Homo sapiens: one gene and its partners. The gene in region 2 interacts genetically with the main gene of each other region. Each region holds a gene or a part of one and is shown on either strand. Other genes may lie near its edges.

Region 1 (3,500 bases), on a different chromosome or scaffold from region 2:
TTCGAGACAGGGTCTCTCTCTGTCGCCCAGGCTAGAGTGCAGTGGTGCGATCATGGCTTACTGCAGTCTCGACTTTCCAGGCTCAACTGATCCTCCCACCTCAGCCCCCAAGTAGCTGAGACTACAAGCGCATGCCACCACACCCAGCTAATTTTTATATTTTTTGTAGCAATGGGGTTTCAGCATGTTGCCCAGGCTAGTCTCAAACTCCTGGGCTCAAGCGATCCTTCTGCCTCAGCCTCCCAAAGTGCTGACATTACAGGCGTGAGCCACCGCACCCTGCCAGTACTATTAATAATACACATGTAATCAATATCCAAAGCTTTCATAAAGCTAAAATAATATACAAAAAGCATCTAAATAAAGTTTAACAGAGATATGCAAGTACACATTTAGGCTTTAAAAATTGTATTTCACTAGTTTAAGGTGAAGAAGAAGTGGCTTGTCAGCAGTTCATATGAGAAATAAAGCTTCAGTGCAAATAAGTTTAACAAAAACCAAAAGAACAACAAGGTAGCTATAAAAACTAAGGCAATTTTAGGTCACAGATAGAAAAGAATGCATCCAAAACAAGTATCCTAAGAGTAGTGAAGTGTCTGGAAATCATGGAGCAAACTGAAAGAACTGGAGGTATTTAACATGGAGACGAGAAAAGGGAAACATCACGGCAGTCTGAATATCTGAGATACTGTCATGGGAATAAAAGTGGACACATATGTCCTCTACTGGTATTCCTCAAACCATCTGTGGTAAAGGGCCACCTTTCCTTCCCCAACCACTGGACACTTCTGTAAAAATATAGTAAGAATACCATGACCACTGAAAATTCCTATAAACTTTTTTTTTTTTTTTTTTTTTAGGACGAAGTCTCGCTCTTGTCCTCCAGGCTGGAGTGCAATGGCACAATCTCGGCTCACTGCAACCTCCACCTCCCAGGGTCAAGTGATTCTCCTGCCTCAGTCCCCCACAAGTAGCTGGGATTACCGGGGCCTGCCACCATGCCCGGCTAATTTTTGCATTTTTAGTAGAGACGGGGTTTCACCATGTTGGCCAGGCTGGTCTCAAACTCCTGACCTCAGATGATCCACCCACCTTGGCCTCCCAAAGTGCTGGGATTACAGGTGTGAGCCACCATTTCCAGCCTGAAAATTCCTATAATAATTTCTAAATGCTCACTCTCACTTTCTGTGTTTCATTAAATTGTGAACAGGTTACAAGTTCATAGATTTCCTACTTCAAGTACCTGTATTCCATCCATACCAGAAAAAAGAACCAAATCAAAGGGAATCATTTTGTGGGAAGTTAAATTTCCACCTGATGTAACAAAGAATTCCTAGCCCATAGTGTTTCCAACAGTGCAATGGCACCGAGAGAACTGAGCTCCTTTGGGAAGTATTCAGAGGAAAAATAATTTTATCTGTTAGATAATCTAAAAAATGTATTCCTACTTTGGAAAGGTGAATGGATTGGATTAAAACATCGTAGAATCTCTCCACTCTCCAAGATTCTGAGTCCAATCAAAAGCAAATACACACACATACACCCTCAAAGTAGCCAAGAACTAATCAATCATTAGCATACTATTAGCATACTCACAAATCAGTTATGATGTATTAGGTAGGATGTACGAGCAAAGGACTATGAAATTGACAAAGCATATGGAAATCATAATTAAGCCCTAAGTAAGTGAGAAGTATGAATAAAGCACCACCATAATCCTTTTTAGTCCATTACTGATGGTACAAGTACACTCTCAGGTTGCCTCTTCAAAGTTTAAACCAGTCCTCGCAAATCAAAACACAAAACAAGGATAAGCCTTTTCCTTTTTCCTAAAAGAACTATTGATAACACCTTTGCCGTCTTAAATTCTCACCTCTGAGTGACCTTCAGCCACAAAGATTTAACCACAGTCTCTACCTTGACCCTGCCCTAACTGTACTACTGGCATACACTACTCCTGTTCAATCTTCTGGTCAATCATCTTCTAGTGGTAACTACTTAAACCACTCCTCCCCTACCACAGACTTATGAAACTAGAAAAGGATCTCCTCCTATACAAATTTCTGATCAACAGTAATTTCAGATTCTCAACCATGCAATATAAATAGTTGTAGAAATATTAAAATAGTTTAATACTCAGCCACGTGCTATGGCTATTACCTCTTTGCTACACTCCCTCAGCCCCCCTCCAAATCCATCCTCCATAGAAATTGACCTAATGCCTAGCAACTCCATCAACTTCTAGCTTCTTGTTGCTCCTCAGGTACAAATACTACACAGTAGTCTACCATACCTTTTAACAACCAAAATTGGCCCCAAAGTCAGGTCTTTTCACCAATTACCACAGGCACAGTACATTCCTCCTTTAGAATTTTAAATGAATGCCCCCAGGAAGAAGACTCCTACAAATGAGTTTTGTAGTTGCATTTAAGAAATTTTTTCACAGCTAATTTTGTGCATTATTTCCCAAAACTCTAATCTGAAATACCACTGGTAATTAATGACTCATTTTCTTAAGAAGAGCAACAGTGACATAAAGAACTTAAAATACAAAACAATGAAAGCAAACCTGTTATAGAGAGAACGTTAAAGCACACAGAAAAATATTAGCAGGTAAGTTTAAGTGACAGAAAAGGAAATTTTACCCCTTGATTATTAAGGAGTATTTAAAATCACAGGAAGAATACACATCCACAAAGCAAAAATCACCATCTACTTGGCAGATTTTTTTAAAATCAGAAACAAAATCTATCGTAGACTCACATTAAAACATGAGTACTCAGACTGTTCTACTTTGAAATTTTCCTGGAATGTTAAGAAATCACCTGTAAGGAGCCCTTTTCCATAAGTTCTTTCAGTGGCATGAAGACTTTAAACATTTTTAAGTATGAGCTCCAAAATAAATTCTCAACTCTGAGAAACATTTGAAAATCACCTGTTTTGTCTCTCAGTATTCTGGAGCTCCCTGTGGTCCCTTTTCAGGTGTTTGGTCAAAGACGTAAAGTACTCTTTTAAAAGATTCTGGAAGGGCTGTTGTTTCTCTGGACTAATTATCTCACTAGGAGGAAAACTCAAATTAAACTTCTCTGCAGCACTCTTTACTTTCCTTGGTACAAGTCCAGCAATATCATCTCCACAATGTCGACAGAAACTAATCACTACAGAGACATGAGTGTGGGACTCCCGATCAGCATTAATAATATTTTTTAGCTGTTCATAGATTAAGGAAAGACCTTCCTTGTCAGTGAAAATCCCAACTATTGTCAATTCTGCAATAAAACGCAAATCAGTTCTTAACTTGGTGATGTTAGGTGTTTTCTCCTCTTTCCTTGCTTCAAAATGTTTTTTCCAGACCTGAAGAAGTGATGGGGCAAAGTCAGCATAACGCTGGTGAAAGAGAGAGCAGAGGTGCACAGCACAGTTCACATCAGAGATTTTTAGTTTTGCTTCCACGATGGAAGCTACAGCTTCTGCAATGTATTTGCTTAAATTTAGGCCAT
Region 2 (3,727 bases):
CCCTCTGCACCACTAGCAGGTAGCTCCTCACCTCCTCGCCCTCGGCCTCCACGACCATTGCCACCACCCCGATTAAAGTCTGCCCGGCGAGTAGCAAATGAGACCTTGATAGGATTTCCGGAGAATTCTTTACCTAGAGAAACAAAAAATCATCAACAGACTTTAAATGCAAGACACATTAATCCGAAAATACAAGAGAAGCGTGCCTTTCTCAAATGGTTTATAATCTGCTGACACATAAGCAAAAATGAGACTACCTGAAACCGCAGCTAAAGTAAGTGTTGGAAGACTCAAAAGAACCCTCAAACTATGGCTTGTTTCCTAAGGCTTGCTGCCCTATATCCCCAGCCCCACCTCTGCCAGCCTTCTCATACATACCATCAAACCAGTCAATAGCTGCTTTAGCTGAAGGTGGGTCATCAAAAGAGACCGTTGCCTCTCCCTTCAGCTTGCCAGTTTCCCTGTCTGTGTACAAATTAATCATGGGCTGTCCCGTTTTCTTGTTTGTCTGAAGAAAGCAAAATGAGGTAACATCAATTTTAAAGGCTACAGTACTCCCTTTCCATCTTCTTCCTCTAGAACATGAGGTTTATAATTCCCAAACTTCAGCTCCCCTCTTCCCAGTTACTTCTTCCTACCTCACATGTAAACCTCCATTAAAGAAAACTGTCTCTCACTCCAATATTGAAAGATAAAACTAAAAGTTACTATAGAGTACAAATCTCAAGAGTTTAGGGTACTCTGATAAGTTATACTTTTTGTGTTAAGATAGAACTTCTCTTTTAGAAAACAGTAACTAAGGCTCTTTCCTCAACAAATTAAGCTGGCAACAACCACTAAGACTTGTTTTTACTGCTGGCAACCATTAAAGACTTGCTTTTACTAATGTGTGAAATCCACAAGCCTACAACACTGACAGAAAGCTCCCACTCCTCTCCACAAGTACCTTAATAATACCAATCTGCTTGAAGTAATCAGCCACAGACTCAATTGTAACATTCTCACCCAGGCCTTGCACAAAGATGGTGTTGTTGTCTGAATTATCCTGTTCTGCTTGTTGAACAGAGAAAATGCAAATGTGAAAAGGTAAAATAAAAAACACAGGAAAAAACCTAAAGCACCTAGTATCCATCAAGCAACTGGTATCATTTGGTTTATGGAAGACAACTAAAAAGAAATCCACATCCCTTTTGAGTCCCTATATGCCAGCCATGCTGATAAATTTCAGATTCAGTTTGACAATTATCCTTTGAAACATGTTAACACCCAGTATACAGTATGGAAACCAGGGCTCAGGAGTGAAATGCCCAACAAGACCACACAGAAAAGTCCATCAGTATTTATCAACTTTCAGTTGAAGGTCCCCGAATTAAATAAGAAACCCATTTTACATTCAAATCTAGTACACAAACATCAATACAACCTAAACAGGAGTTCAATGCTTTACTTCATGTGGTCAGGTCTTTCACTAGTTTTGTTCACCAACTTGGACATGATCCACATTTTGAAAGAACCACTGCTGTAAACCATCTGAGTGTGGTCCAGACGCATCAGCATCACTGGGGACTTGTTAGAAAGGTAGATTTTCAGGGTCCTCTCAGACCTAAATCACTGGGGGTGGAACCCACAAGCCAGGTATTTCTGAGAAATACTTCGTAACAAATACTTCTCACTGCTAACTAAGGACACACCTAACTCCCTTCCTTCTCTATCCCCATTTTTTTCAGTTTCCTTTTTATAATAGTTTCAAAGAACATCCAGGCAGTCTTGATACCACTTTAGCCACTCTTTTCATGCCACCACGTGTGAACTCACCGGAGTCATGACGTGATCCTTGGTCCCGAGGGCCTTTAGTGACATGGAAAAAAAGAACAAAAAAAAAACAAAAACAAGGAAAAGATGAGCCGTTAGTCAACAGGAAAAAACGGACAAGGAAAAAAATTAACACCAAATCCAAACTTGTAAAATATCAAGTAAGTGCTCACAGCCTCACTCCAAACCCTTTCCTGGGTCGCCTGCCCAGAGGAGAAAATTCTAGGCAGGCCCCTTAAGATCTGTAACTTGAGTCTCCACAGAGACAACTCCACACTTCAGCAAATGCTGCCTCCCCCAGCTCAGGCTGGGAAATGTCCTCAGCACAGGTGGCAGGGGAAACGGAGACCCATTAAAGTGAACAAACCAACTCAGCTTGGCCCGGTTCTCTCACCCGAGAGAAGAGAGATGGGCTCGCCACCAGCCATGCGATGTGCATCCATCCAGTTTCTCCCAACTTTACCACCAGACACTTAACCCTTGTGGAACAATTTTTAATTTCATCTTTAGAAACCATCCTTAAAACCGTGTTGTTTCCCCGAAACCACATGAAAATAAAAACCATACATAATAGCTATTGTATTTTTTAAGCATGTCCCAGGGAACAGACCAGAAATCTTATTTCCGTAATGCAGCCTCTATTTTGTTTTTCCAGAGACCATCTTTGACCAATGTTTATCTGAATTCGCCATATATAAATATTGTACCCACACGCAATGACACCTAAGTCATGAACCCACACCTTTGGCTTTAAATCTTGAAACAAATCAAGAAACCTTTTGTTAACCAAACCAGAAAAGTTCCAGCTTACTGGGAGACTTCTCAAATTTGTCATTTTTCCATGAATTCAGTTTGTGCTGTTTAAGACCTTCCTGGTCCACGAATTCAGTTTGTGCTGTTTAAGACCTGGTTATTTCCCATGAGCCACACATGCTTCCAATCTTTCTTGAAGTAGTGCACATGTTCCTTCCCAGAGCTAGTTTCTATTTGCCCATCTCAGTTAAGTCCATATACATAGAATTGCATTCATTGACACCATTCCGTACTTTATAAATGTATACCAACTTCACCATCCTCAGGGCAATGTTACATCCCTCTTCCAGAATTAAACATTCGGAGTTGTCTCCCACACACTCACACACACACAAGCCTTGGACACAACGATCAAAAGGATCCTAAAGCCAAGATGGCACCACGTGTTCCAGCACGCACTCTCCAGTTTCTCATGATGATGGTCACTAAGTGCCAGGTGTGGCAACGGCCCAGTCCAAGGCCTACTAGACCCCTCTTATTAACCTGGGGCAAACCCATTTGGTAAAAGATGACTATTGAGTCTTACCCCTACCTGCTCCAGGTTAGCACACACCAGGCAACAGGTGGCATTCTACCCTACCCCTTTCTGGAGGTGGTTCTGGACACCTCAAAACCTTTGACATTTAAATTAACACGCTAAGACATCTGCAAATGAACAATCAGACAAAGCATTGCTGGGAGTTGGGAATTTTGGAAACTCTGTTCACTTACCACCAAATTTATTGAAGCCACCACGGTCACTTCCGCTGGAGAAGACAAGTTAGAAGAAAGGACATGAAGCTTCCAACGGCTACAAAAGGTTGTTTTTTGATTTTGTTTAACATTCCCCAAACATGGGTAGGTGTTTTTGGAAAAAGATACAAGTGGCTACTAAAATACATCCCTTCCTGACCACCCCTTGTCTGACCTTTGAGCATGTCACACACACGTGTGCAATTTCTCAGACACAGTTTATAAAGATTTTGCTTTAAAAGGTTACGTTATCTATTTCCTCTGGAAAAAAAATAACCCATTTTCCTTGGTCGTTCTTCCGATGGAGCAGATGTTTTTTTTTCCTCTTGTCGCAAGTGGTTGACAACCAAGTAGTTGGTTTAAAAACCCT
Region 3 (3,727 bases), on a different chromosome or scaffold from region 2:
CCCAGGCTGGAGTGCAATGGCACAATCTCAGCTCACCGCAACCTCCACCTCCCGGGTTCAAGCGATTCTCCTGCCTCAGCCTCCCAAGTAACTGGGATTACAGGCATGTGCCACTATACCCAGCTAATTTTGTATTTTTAGTAGAGACAGGATTTCTCCATGTTGGTCAAGCTGGTCTGGAACTCCTGACCTCCGGTGATTCACCTGCCTCTGCCTCTCAAAGTGCTGAGATTACAGGCGTGAGCCACCAAGCCCGGCCTGGATTTTCTTCTTTTTATTAAGACAAGGTCTCACTCTGTCACCCAGGCTGGAGTGCAGTGGTGCGATCATGGACATTTTGCCCAGGCTGGTCTCAAACTCCTGAGCTCAAATGATCTGCCTGCCTCAGCCTCCCAAAGTACTGGGATTACAGGCATGGGCCATCGTGCCCAGCTACATGTGCAGATTTTAAACTCACCACTTTTCGGAACCCAAGACTGTATGGAACTCACCCCGCCTTGGTCATAATCTCAGGGCTCAGCAGAAGATGGTGTGTTCACCTGGACAGTCAAGGATAGGTCAGGACAATGGCTTTGAAGACAAAGTAGCAACTTTCTATCCTGAGTATTTTACCACTTCAAAAGGAAAAGTGAGCCCAGGTTTACACACTCAGAGAAGTGGAGGCAATACAGAGAAGTCTGGCAGGAGGAGAGTGAGGGCTGGACGACAGGTCGGCTAGGAGCTTTAGCTAGTTGTCCCTTACGATCCAGAAAGACAGCATGTTTTTCCTAGGGAAACAACTCATGCACTCAGAGTAAAATCCCAGTACGAGATGACTATTCAGCTGTGACTCCCACAGGCTACCAGGAGTGGAGACGGAACAGGCAGTGCAGACCTGACCTGAGGATGAAGGAACAAAGTGGGACCAGTACCAAGCAGCATCTATCTACAAGGTCACCCAGAGCACCTGCACAAAAACATGCGTGTTGCTGCCTAAAAGGTCTGTACCTACCCACAGACCTCATACTTTCAGGTGAGCTAAGAAAAGCAACTCAAACCAATAGGCACACATTTTTCCCACTGGATGTACACACTGCTTTGTTTACCCATTCATCTGCTGATGGCCACTGGGGCTGCTTCCGGTTTGGGGTTCTCATGAAGAGATGCTGTCAGCATTTGGCGCAGCCCTGCGTACACACACCTTCATCTCTGCTAGGTCACAGGTAGGTGTATGGCATGAGAGTTCCAGGCAGCACTTTTGCCAGGCTCAATGGCTCACTCTGTAATTCCAACACTTGGGAGGCCTGAGGTGAGAGGATCTCTTGAGCCCAGGAGTTCAAGACCAGCCTGGGTAACATGGCAAAACCCCATCTCTACAAAAAAAGAAAAATCAGCCAGACGTGGTGGCACACACCTGTAGTCCCAGCTACTTGGGAGGCTGAGGTGGAAGGATCGCTTGAGCCCAGGAGGTCGAGGCTGCAGTGACCCATGATAACGCCACTGCACTACAGCCTGGGTGACAGAATGAGACTTTGCCTTAAAACAAAAACAAAAAACCCAAGTAGCACTTTCAGCCTTTTAAAAAAAGTATGGCAGGCTGGGCGCAGTGGCTCACGGCTGTAATCCCAGCACTTTAGGAGGTAGAGGAGGGCGGAACACGAGGTCAGGAGATCAAGACCATCCTGACTAACATGGTGAAACCCTGCCTCTATAAAAATACAAAAAATTAGCCGGGCATGGTAGCACACACCTGTAGTCCCAGCTACTCGAGAGGCTAGGGCAGGAGAATCGCTTGAACCCAGGAGGTGGAGGTTGCAGTGAGCCAAGATTGTGCCACTGCACTCCAGCCTAGGCAACAGAGCGAGACTCCGTCTCCAAAAAAAAAAAAAAAAAAAAATGGGTGGATAGTGGTATCTCCCTGACTTTTCTTTCCAGTTTCATTGAGGCATAACTGACATACCATAAGCTGCAAATGTTTAGTGTGCCATTTTAGAAACTGACATACATCAATGTACTTAAACACCCATAAAACTATCACTACAATCACGATAATAAAAACGTCCATTACCCCCAAGTTTCCTGTGCCCTTTGTCACCTGCCTCCCCTTTCCCACCTTTCTGTCCAGCCACCACTGGTCTGCTTTCTATTGCTGCAGGCTAGCTGGCAATTTCTAGAATTTTTTTATGAATTAAATCATATGATGAATGACACATACAAAAAAGTAATTATTATGAGACACATCCATGTTGTTGCAGGTATCAATAGTTTGTTCCTTCTTAATACTGAGCAGTATTTCCAACTCTTAAGAGTTTCACTCTAGTTCCCGTTTGGAGGATCCAGGGCAGAAGCTACAGTCAAGAGGAAATATTCCAACCAGGCAGACCAAAAGGCTTGTAACACCAGCTATTATGCAAAGGACTTCTGAAATTACCTTCACTGTCCTGGGAGCAGGAGAAGTGGCAGCAGAGAAGGGCCCAGGAAAAGGTCAGATGCTCGAAAACTGTCCCTGTATCTTAAGGACACTTGGCAATACTGTGTCAGCGCTTTTCATCCCAGGATCTCAAGGGCTTTGATAAATATCAGTTTCATTTCATAAACAAGAAAAGGAGTGTTATCTGAACCAGCTCTGAGTGCAGGGAGTCACCCCTGCTGCCACTTTCCCATCCCGGTGGGGACACACTGTCTTTCAACACACATTAAGGGAAAACCAACTGCGCAAAACCAGTTCAGGTAGGGTTGGTATGGAAAGTGGCTACACACTGGAAAACAGTCTTGCAGTTACTGAAACCATTAAACCCAAGGTTACTACGCGGCCCAGCAGGTCTATAAACACATCCACGCAGAAACCTGTACACTCATGGCCACAGCAGTGCTATTCACAAAAGCCAAGAGGTGGAAACAACCCAAATGTCCATCAACAGATGACGAGATAAACAAAACATGGTCCATCCATCTGGACCATTCCACCCATGGAATATTACTCAGCCTTAAAAAGGAATGAAATGCTGGCCAGGTGCGGTGGCTCATGCTTGTAATCCCAGCACTTTGGGAGGCCGAGGCAAGTGGACCACATGGTCAGGAAATCAAGACCATCTGGCCAACATGGTGAAACCCCGTCTCTACTAAAAATACAAAAATTAGCCGGGGCATGGTGGTGTGCACCTGTAATCCCAGCTACTGGGGAGGCTGAGGCAGGAGAATCGCTTGAACCTGGGAGGCACAGGTTGCAGTGAGCCAAGATCACGCCACTGCACCCCAGCCTGGGCAACAGAGCGAGACTCTGTCTCAAAAAAAAAAAAGGAATGAAATGATGACACATACCACAGCGTGGATGAACCTCGATCAGGTTCATTTTCCTGAATGCTCGGCCAGGGAACAGCTACGAAGCTCACCTTGTAGCTACTTCTCACACATCACGCAGAGTGAAAGGAGCCAGACACAAAACACCATATATGATATGATTCCGTTGATGTGAAATGCCCAGAACAGGCACATCTTGAGACAGAAAGCAGGTGAGTGGTTGCCAGGGGCTGTGGAGGTAGGACGGATGGGCTAAGGGGTGCAGGGTTTATCTCTGGGGTGACAAAAATGTTCTAAAGTTTACTGTGGTAATGGCTGCACAACTCTGAATATACTAAATAAAAGCCGCCGAACTGTACACTTTATATGGGTAAATTGTATGTTGTGGCAAGTGAATTCTATTTCAATAAAGCCGCTAAGCAAAAGTGACTGCAGGGCACTTGACAGC

Evidence for each region.
Region 1: of FUS (region 2) and UPF2, extra expression of one rescues a mutant of the other (dosage rescue), as found in Homo sapiens cells (one study listed by BioGRID).
Region 3: of FUS (region 2) and UPF1, extra expression of one rescues a mutant of the other (dosage rescue), as found in Homo sapiens cells (one study listed by BioGRID).

What each region holds. Positions count from the first base shown.
Region 1 is NC_000010.11:12,025,810-12,029,309, forward strand, and holds part of UPF2 (regulator of nonsense transcripts 2), read right to left. Parts: coding exon 2,936-3,500; intron 1-2,935. UniProt on the Homo sapiens protein: Involved in nonsense-mediated decay (NMD) of mRNAs containing premature stop codons by associating with the nuclear exon junction complex (EJC).
Region 2 is NC_000016.10:31,186,446-31,190,172, reverse strand, and holds part of FUS (RNA-binding protein FUS), read right to left. Parts: intron 3,372-3,727; coding exon 3,337-3,371; intron 1,849-3,336; coding exon 1,816-1,848; intron 1,051-1,815; coding exon 947-1,050; intron 509-946; coding exon 379-508; intron 134-378; coding exon 32-133; intron 1-31. UniProt on the Homo sapiens protein: DNA/RNA-binding protein that plays a role in various cellular processes such as transcription regulation, RNA splicing, RNA transport, DNA repair and damage response. Binds to ssRNA containing the consensus sequence 5'-AGGUAA-3'.
Region 3 is NC_000019.10:18,834,899-18,838,625, reverse strand, and holds part of UPF1 (regulator of nonsense transcripts 1), read right to left. Parts: intron 1-3,727. UniProt on the Homo sapiens protein: RNA-dependent helicase required for nonsense-mediated decay (NMD) of aberrant mRNAs containing premature stop codons and modulates the expression level of normal mRNAs.